Linked DNA regions of Homo sapiens. The protein of the gene in region 2 purifies or fractionates together with the protein of the main gene of each other region. This does not show direct contact. Each region holds a gene or a part of one and is shown on either strand. Other genes may lie near its edges.

Evidence for each region. Proteins that work in one complex are often made in the same cells at the same time.
Region 1: the proteins of QNG1 (region 2) and NAXD fractionate together in Homo sapiens (co-fractionation; one large-scale study listed by BioGRID). This does not show direct contact.

What each region holds. Positions count from the first base shown.
Region 1 is NC_000013.11:110,628,370-110,633,342, forward strand, and holds part of NAXD (ATP-dependent (S)-NAD(P)H-hydrate dehydratase), read left to right. Parts: intron 1-4,973. UniProt on the Homo sapiens protein: Catalyzes the dehydration of the S-form of NAD(P)HX at the expense of ATP, which is converted to ADP.
Region 2 is NC_000009.12:83,946,088-83,951,060, forward strand, and holds part of QNG1 (queuosine 5'-phosphate N-glycosylase/hydrolase), read right to left. Parts: intron 1-4,973.

The sequences.
Region 1 (4,973 bases), on a different chromosome or scaffold from region 2:
GACTGCATGGGGATCAGAGGCCGGGCATTAGTGAGGGACTACGCTTGAAGCCCTTAGAAGGTGCCTGGCCATTTTGTGTTCCCCAGATCAGCAGTCACCCTGAAAATGCCAGCCATCTGCATGGCACTCTGTTGGGTGCTTAGTTAATGGAGGGGTCTCTGAGGCTGCGGGGCTTGAAGGCGGCGAGTGATGGAGCCAGCAGTGCAGGATGAGTCATCTGAGGGGCAGGCAGACGCAGGCTGACACTGCACAGACCAGGAAAAGCGGCGTGGAGTCAGCACGGGAGCCCGTCTTTGAGCTTTAAGGTCTTACCCGCTCACCGGGAAGGAGGAGGTGGCCATGTTTAGGAGCAGTAGAACCCTCTGTCATCCCCGGGGAGAGGCTCTCAATGGGGAGTCCCATCTGCAGGCTGCGGGTCTGCGGTGCACGGCTGCTGCTTCCTGTCCAGCTCTGCATCCTGGGGGTGCGGATGAATTAGAGGTGAACGAGCCAGAGTGCTCTGCTTCAGGTTATTTTCTTTGTGAATTTAAGTTCACAATTTAAAAACTGGTATCTTAAAAAACCACTGTACTGCGTGGAAGTGTGAAAGGTGGGAAGTGAGGGTGTGCGTCGCTGCCCCTGCAGCCCAGACTCTGGACCTTGCATTCTGGTTCCTGTACACTGTTGCCGTGGTCTTGAGAGCCCTCAGGTCATCTAGCGTGGGCTGCCGCCTCCTCGTCAGCTTCCAGCTCGTGTCTGGTGCGGAGCAGAGGCTTCCTACTTCGTCGACGTTCCTGAATGAGGTCATCATCTGGTGTAGGCCTGAAAACAACCCGATTAGGTAGATTCCTATTCATAGCCCCATTCTTCTGATGACAGATTGAGTCCTGGCAAGGATTCAAGACGCCCGTGGGATCTGGTAGCAAAGAAACTGCAGAGATGGTTTTTTAAAAACGACTTTATTTAGATGATTTACCTACCATACCCCTCACCCATTTAAAGTGAACTATGCGGTGGCTTCAAGTATATTCATAGTTGTGCAACCATCACCATGATCAACCTTAGAATATGTTTATTGCCTCCAGAAGCAGCCCATCCCCGTTAGCATCTGCTCCCTGTTCCCCAGTCTCCCCAGTTCCTGGCAGCCACTCAGCTAGTATGCTTTCTGTCTCTCTGGATTCGCCTGTTCAGGACATTTCATATGAATGGAATTATGCAACGTGTGCTATTTAGTGATTAGTTATGTCACTCTGCATAATTTTATATTTAGAGTTACCTGTGTTGTAGCATGTATCAGTATTCCATTCCTTTTTATATCTAATATTTCACTGTATGCATACACCACCTTTGGTTTATCTGTTGATTAATTTATGGAAAATTGGTTTCCACTTTTTGTGTGGATGTGTTTTCACTCTCCTGGGTGTTAAGTGTTTCACATTTTGAGGCCCTGCCACTGTTTCCCATAGCGGCTGCACTATTTTCCATTCCCTCTAGCAGTGTGCGAGGGCTCTGATTCTCCACATCGTTCCCAGCACTTGTTACTGTTGTTGTCTACTTAGCAGCCACTCTAGTGGGCGTGGAGCGACCTCACTGTGGTTTGGTTTGCGTTTTCCTGGCAGCTGATGCTGTTGAGCATCTTTGCATGTGCTCATTGGCTGTTTGGGTATCTTTTTTTTTGTTTTTGTTTTGTTTTGTTTTTGAGACATATTCTCACTCTGTCACCCAGGCTGGAGTATAATGGCGTGATCTTGGCTCACTGCAATCTCCACCTCCTGGGTTTAAGTGATTCCTTTGCCTTGGCCTCCAAGTAGCTTGGACTACAGGCGCCCACCATCACACCCAGCTAATTTTTGTATTTTTAGTAGAGATGGGGTTTCACCATGTTGGCCAGGCTGGTCTCGAACTCCTGACCTTAGGTATCCGCCCGCCTCAGCCTCCCAAAGTGCTGGGGTTACAGGCGTGAGCTACCATGCCTGGCCTCTTTGGGTATCTTCTTTGGAGAAGTGTCTATTCATACCCTTTCCCCACTTTGAAAACTGTTTTTTGCCTTTTTTTTATTGACTTTTAGGAGTTCTTCATATACGTTCTAGACACAGGTTCCTTATCAGAGAGACGATTTGCCGATATCCTCTCATTCTGTAGGTTGTCTTTTCACTTCGATGGTTTTGTTTACAGCACAGTTTTTAATTTTGAAGTCCAATTTAGCTGTTTTTTCTTTTGTCCCTTGTGCTGTTGGTGTCTTATCTCAGAAGCTTCTGCCTAACCCAAGGTTTACTCCTACATGTTAAGAGCCTTATTGTTTTGGTTGTTACTTTAGCTCTGCGGTGCATGTCGAGCTGATGCTGGTGTGGTAGGAGGAGGCTCCAGCGTCAGTCTTTTGCTTGTGGGTGTCCAGCTGTTGCAGCACCATGTGCTGGAGAGACTCCTTTTTCCTCCCAACTTGTCATCCTCCCTGACAATCCGTTGACCCTAAATGTGAAGGCTTATTTCTGGACTGTTGTTTCTGTTTTGTTGATCTGTACAGCTGTCCTGCAACTGCCCGGTCTTGACTGCTGTGGCTGTGTAGGAAGCCTTGACGTCGAAAGCCCGAGTCCTCCAAATTCGCTCTTTTTAAGGTTGTTTTGGCTCTCCTGGGTCCCATGCATTCCAGTTTTGGATCAGCTTGCTGATTTGTGGAATAGGCAGCCGCAACTTTGGTAGGGATGATGTTGAAACTGAAGATCAGTTGGGGGAATGTCTAACAACATTAAGTCTTCTGGTTCCTGGGCTGGCTTTGAACCCACGTTGTCTGAATCTGGAGCGCAGGCTCTTGACCAATGCACCTGTCCTCACACTGTGCTCTTTGCACACTCGTTAACAGTGTGTCCTGGAGACTTTTTCATGGAAGGATATGTGGATACTCATTATTTTTAACAGCCACATCAGAATTTATGGATCTACTACAGTGTATTTAGTTCATTTACACTGTTTTCAGCTTTTTCTTCATGTTAACATCAGTGGTGTCCTGAATCTATGTGTTTTGTGCACTCTTTTGGGTGAAGTTCCATTGCTGAATCAGAGTAAGGACGTTTAAATTTTTGAGAGATGCCCCCAGATTTCTCCCTAGTGTACCAAGGTTTGCTTTCCCATGGGTGGGGACACCCTTCTGCGCTGGGTGCTCTGATGCTGCAAACCTTTCTAGGAGACCCATGTAACATTGCATTTTCCAGGGTTTGAATATTCACTTTTGAGTACTATTTGCAAATACATTAAAAGAAAACACAGAAACAGATGAAAATGTCAGATTGTTGCCAAATACTGCAACATGAAATCAGAAACTGATCTAAAATCTGAATTAGCAAAAGCCTGCCAGTTTTAACAGTAAAGCCAAACTCAGGGCAAGCAGACAAAGAATTTTTATTGTTAATAAAGGGAATAATAAACTTCCATGAAGTCTCAGGTACCTGCCTCCCTGGAAGGGGCTTCAGGACACACTGCTAATGCTCGGACCAGTGTCAGAGCCAAATACACACTTTCCTATGGCTGGAATGTGCGTCATAAACAGGCTGAAATGAGCACTTTGTTAGGCGAGCAGCTAATGCTTTGTCAGCTTTCAAATTTCATTTAATATACACGGCTTTAGTTTTCAATACTTTAAATTATTCTTAGCATGTATTTTTATGTCCAGAATTGGTGGGTTCTTGGTCTCACTGACTTCAAGAATGAAGCCGTGGACCCTCGCGGTGAGTGTTACAGCTCTTAAGGTGGCGCGTCTGGAGTCTGTTCCTTCTGATGTTCAGATGTGTTCGGAGTTTCTTCCTTCTGGTGGGTTCGTGGTCTCTGTCTCAGGAGTGAGGCTACAGACCTTCGCGGTGAGTGTTACAGCTCTTAAGGCAGCGCGTCTGGAGTTGTTCGTTCCTCCCGGTGGGCTCGTGGTCTCGCTGGCTTCAGGAGTGAAGCTGCAGATCTTCGCGGTGACTGTTACAGCTCATAAAAGCAGTGTGGACCCAAAGAGTGAGCAGTAGCAAGATTTATTGCAAAGAGCGAAAGAACAAAGTTTCCACAGCGTGGAAGGGGACCCGAGCGGGTTACCAATGCTGGCTCGGGCAGCCTGCTTTTATTCTCTTATCCGGCCCCGCCCACATCCTGCTGATTGGTAGAGCCGAGTGGCCTGTTTTGTCAGGGCACTGATTGGTGTGTTTACAATCCCTGAGCTAGACACAAAGGTTCTCCACGTCCCCATCAGATTAGTTAGATACAGAGTTTCGACACACAGGTTCTCCAAGGCCCCACCAGAGCATCTAGATACAGAGTGTCGATAGGTGCACTCACAAACCCTGAGTTAGACACAGAGTGCTGATTGGTGTATTTACAAACCTTGAGCTAGATACAGAGTGCCGATTGGTGTATTTACAATCCCTGACCTAGACATAAAGGTTCTCCAAGGCCCCACCAGAGCAGCTAGATACAGAGTGTCGATTGGTGCATTCACAAACCCTGAGCTAAACACAGGGTGCTGATTGGTGCACTCACAAACCCTGAGCTAGACACAGGGTGCTGATTGGTGTGTTTACAATCCCTGAGCTAGATATAAAGACTCTCCACATCCCCACCAGACTCAGGAGCCCAGCTGGCTTCACCCAGTGGATCCCGCACCAGGGCTGCAGGTGGAGCTGCCTGCCAGTCCTGCGCCGTGCGTTCGCATTCCTCAGCCCTTGGGTGGTCGATGGGACTGGGTGCCGTGGAGCAGGGGGTGGTGCTCGTCGGGGAGGCTCGGGCCGCACAGGAGCCCATGGAGGGGGTGGGAGGCTCAGGCATGGCGGGCTGCAGGTCCCGAGCCCTGCCCGGCGGGAAGGCAGCTAAGGCCCGGTGAGAAATTGAGCACAGTGCCGGTGGGCTGGCACTGCTGCAGGACCCAGTACACCCTCTGCAGCCGCTGGCCCGGGTGCTAAGTCCCTCATTGCCCCGGGCCAGCAGGGCTGGCCGGCTGCTCCGAGTGCGGGGCCCGCCAAGCC
Region 2 (4,973 bases):
CGAGGTCAGGAGTTCGAGACCAGCCTGGCCCATATGGTAATACCCCGTCTGTACTAAAAATACAAAAATTAGCTGGGTGTGGTGGCGATCGCCTGTAGTCTCAGCTACTCAGGAGGCTGAGGTAGAAGAATTGCTTGAACTTGAGTGGCAGAGGTTGCAGTGAGCCGAGATCGCACCACTGCACTCCAGCCTGGGCAACAGAGCAAGGCTCTGTCAAAAATAATAATAATTAAAAAAAAATACAGCAACATACAAAGAATAATCATCCATAAGCTCAGGTCTGAAGAGAACCACAACATTCATTTTTAACTGTTTCCTTTCAGATAATATGATTAACTTATTTTATGAAGACATTAATTGATCAACAGCTAGAAAATGATCATATTTACCAATTTTGGAAATGCTCAAAGTTGATATGTAAGTCCAAATATGAAAATAAAATAGCCAATTATATTTATACATAGAAAAGACAAATTTAACCAAGCATTAGTGGGTTATAATTTAACTAAAAAATTCTAGCTAAGTGTGGTGGCTTACACTTGTAATCCCATCAATTTGGGAGGCCAAAGCCAGAGGATTGTTTGAAGCCAGAAGTTCAAGACCAGCCTGGAAAACGATGAAACTCCATCTCTACAAAACACGGCGAAACCCTGTCTCTACAACCACCACACCTGGCTAATTTTCATATTTCAGTAGAGATGGGGTTTCACCATGTTGGCCAGACTGGTCTCAAACTCCTGACCTCAGGCGATCCGTGTGCCTTGGCCTCTCAAAGTGCTGGGATTACAGGCATGAGCCACCATGCCTGGCCTACAAATTTTTTTTTTTTTTTAATTAGCCAGGCGTGGTGGCACGTGCCTGTAGTCTCAGCTACTCACCAGGCTGAGGCAGGGGGTTTGCTTGAGCCTGTGAGGTAGAGGCTGCAGTGAGCTGTGATCACATCACTAAACTCCATCCTGGGCAACTGAGACTCTATCTCAAAAAACAACACCCCAAAAACACTCTGTAAATCTACAAATGCAAATCAGCCTAGATTATGGAAAAACATAGATAATTACAATCAACTACTAGTCCTAATACCAATAGTAATAACCTTAAATAATGTTTTATAAATGTTTATCAATATTACTAGCTCCCAAAATATATCCTGACCACCTTGGAGGAGAATATTTTAACTTGTAAATGACATAAACAAATAAATACGAGATTAAAAGTTTAAGGAAAGGCTCTATATAAAAATTCCTTAAGATGACACTACAGATTCTTTTATTTACTAAGAAAATGCCAATGATACCCTGTCATAACAAGAAATAACCTAATATTGCTTAACCTTAAGATATGCCTATTGTAACAGATCCAGACCTATTTTTATTATACTAAATAAATTAAAACTTCTAAAGCTACATTTAAGAAAGTCAGAATTTGCCTCTCCCTCTCCCTCGTCTCCCACTTTCCAGGGTCTCCCTCTGATGCCGAGGGGAGGCTGGACCGTACTGCCGCCATCTCGGCTCACTGCAACCTCCCTGCCTGATTCTCCTGCCTCAGACTGCCAAGTGCCTGGGATTGCAGGCGCTCGCCGCCACGCCTGACTGGTTTTTGTATTTTTTGGTGGAGATGGGGTTTCGCCGTGTTGGCCGGGCTGGTCTCCAGCTCCTGACCGCGAGTGATCTGCCCGCCTGGGCCTCCCGAGGTGCCGGGATTGCAGACAGAGGCTCGCTCACTCAGTGCTCAATGTTGCCCAGGCTAGAGTGCAGTAGCGTGATCTCGACTCACTACAACCTCCACCTCCCAGCCGCCTGCCTTGGCCTCTCAAAGTGCTGAGATTGCAGCCTCTGCCCGGCCGCCACCCCGTATGGGAAGTGAGGAGCGTCTCTGCCTGGCCGCCCATCGTCTGGGATGTGAGGAGCCCCTCTGCCCGGCCGCCCAGTCTGGGAAGTGAGGAGCGCCTCTTCCCGGCTGCCATCCCATCTAAGAAGTGAGGAGCGTCTCTGCCCGGCTGCCCATCGTCTGAGATGTGGGGAGCGCCTCTGCCCCGCCGCCCCGTCTGGGATGTGAGGAGCGCCTCTGTCCGGCCGCGACCCCGTCTGGGAACTGAGGAGTGTCTCTGCCCGACCGCCACCCCGTCTGGGAGGTGAGGAGCGTTTCTGGCCGGCCGCCCCGTCTGAGAAGTGAGGAGCCCCTCCGCCCAGCAGCCGCCCCGCCTGGGAAGTGAGGAGCCCCTCCGCCCGGCAGCCGCCCCGTCTGGGAAGTGAGGAGGGTCTCCGCCCGGCAGCCGCCCCGTCCAGGAGGGAGGTGGGGGTCAGCCCCCAGCCCGGCAGCCGCCCCGTCCGGGAGGGAGGTGGGGGGCAGCCCCCCCGCCCGGCCAGCCGCCCCGTCGGGGAGGGAGGTGGGGGGCGCCTCCGCCCGGCCACCGCCCTGTCCGGGAGGGGGGGGGCGCCTCTGCCTGGCCGCCCCGTCTGGGAAGTGAGGAGCCCTTCTGCCCGGCCGCCACCACGTCTGGGAGGCATGCCCAACAGCTCATTGAGAGCGGGCCATGATGACGATGGCGGTTTTGTCGAATAGAAAGGGGGGAAATGTGGGGAAAGGAAAGAGGGATCGGATTGTTACTGTGTCCGTGTAGAAAGAAGTAGACATAGGAGACTCCATTTTGTTATGTACTAAGAAAAATTCTTCTGCCTTGGGATGCTGTTAATCTATAAACTTACCCCCAACCCCGTGCTCTCTGAAACATGTGCTGGGTCCACTCAGGGTTAAATGGATAAAGGGCGGTGCAAGATGTGCTTTGTTAAACAGATGCTTGAAGGCAGCATGCTCCTTAAGAGTCATCACCACTCCCTAATCTCAAGTACCCAGGGACACAAACACTGCGGAAGGCCGCAGGGTCCTCTGCCTAGGAAAACCAGAGACCCTTGTTCACATGTTTATCTGCTGACCTTCCCTCCACTATTGTCGATGACCCTGCCAAATCCCCCTCTCCAAGACACACCCAAGAATGATCAATAAATACTAAAAAAAAAAAAAAAAGTCAGAATTTGTTTTCCAGAGCAAGTATACATTCTCATTTTCTGAGAAAATGGTGTAATGTCTCTAAATTAAATTAAGGGGCTGAAGGAACAAATCACAATTTAAAACATTCCTACATTATGCTATCACCCTATATTCCTAAACCTATCTAAATATGACAACTTGGCAATTGTTCCTCTATATAAACTGGATTTATATATGGCAACCAGGTTTCTAGTTCAAGTCTAGTTTATAAAACAACACAAGACATGGCTGGGTGCAGTGGCTCATGCCTGTAATCCCAGCACTTTGGGAGGCCGAGGCGGGTGGATCACCTGAGGTTGGGAGTTTGAAACCAGCCTGACCAACATAGAGAAACCCCGTCTCTACTAAAAAAAATACAAAATTAGCCGGGCATGGTGGCACATGCCTGTAATCCCAGCTACTCGGGAGGCTGAGGCAGGAGAATCACTTGAACCCGGGAGGCCGAAGTTGTGATGAGCCGAGTTCACGCCATTGCACTCCAGCCTCGGCAACAAGAATGAAACTCTGTCTCAAGGGAAAAACAAAAACAAACAAAAAAAAAACCCAGCAAGACATAAGACTTAACTTATAAAAATGTCTATTAAACACAATTACTACACCATCAAGTTTATTATAATAGATAGAAGCCATTATCTGCTATTTTTAACAAGATTCATAGAGCAAAATGGAAAAAACTAGAAATCAAACTTACATAGCAACCCACATGGAAAAAAACAAAAAATAAAAATAAAATCAGTGCTAGCATCTAAGAAAACATGTAAATTATCATGTCACTGCTGTTTCCATGGTAGCAGACTAGTATATATAAAGAATAGATTATAATAGATATAATAATATATTAATATAAAAAAGAACAAAAAGATTTAAGGGAGGAATCAAAAATAAATTCAAGTAATCTGTAAAACATTTTCCTATTTTTTTTTTTTTTTTTGGAGACGGAGTCTTGCTCTGTTGCCCAGGCTGGAGTGCAATGGTGCAATCTCGGCTCACTGCAACCTCTGCCTCCCGGGTTCAGGCCATTCTCCTGCCTTAGCCTCCCGAGTAGCTGGGATTACAGATGGGCGCCAACACGCCTGGCTAATTTTTGTATTTTTAGTAGAGACGGGGTTTCACCACGTGTGCCAGGCTGGTCTTGAACTCCTGACCTTGTGATCCACCTGCCTCGGCCTCCCAAAGTGCAAGGATTACAGGTATGAGCCACCACGCCTGGCCATCTCTATAAAACATTTTCTTGGTAAGCTCATTATGGTTTTAGAAATCAAATGATTTTTGTAATCAAATTCTGGATCTCTAAAATATTAACTGGTATCACTAAAACTACTAGTAAATCTCCAAATAACAATTGCTTACATGTTTCATGATATTGTTTTGTGATTTAAATATTTTCTAAATCGTACCTTTATAAAATAATTGTCAATAAAAAGCTCTATGACCATGAGTTAATTTTTTTCTTTTCTTTTCTTTTTTTTTTTTTTTTTGAGACAGGGCCTCACTGCTGCCTAGGCTGTAGCTCAATTCAGTGGCTCAATCACGGCTCACTGCTGCCTTGACCTCCTTGGGCTCAAGCAATCCTCCCACCTCAGCCTCCTGAATAGCTGGGACTATAGGTGTTCACCACCAAGGCCAGTTAATTTTCTTGTTATTTTGCAGAGATGAGGTTTCCCCATGTTGCCTAGGCTGGTCTTGAACTCCTGGGCTCAAGTGATCCACCCACCTTGGCCTCCCAAGGTTCTAGGATTACAGGAAAGAGCCATCGCACCTGGACAGTTAAGTTTTTTGAAAAAATTATTCCATAATTTTATCATGAATAAATAGAAAGTTCAAGGATTACAAAAGTTAAGAACAACATAGGCCAAGTGCGGTAGCTCATGCCTGTAATCCCAGCACTTTGGGAGGGAGGCCGAGGTGGGCAGATCACCCGAAGT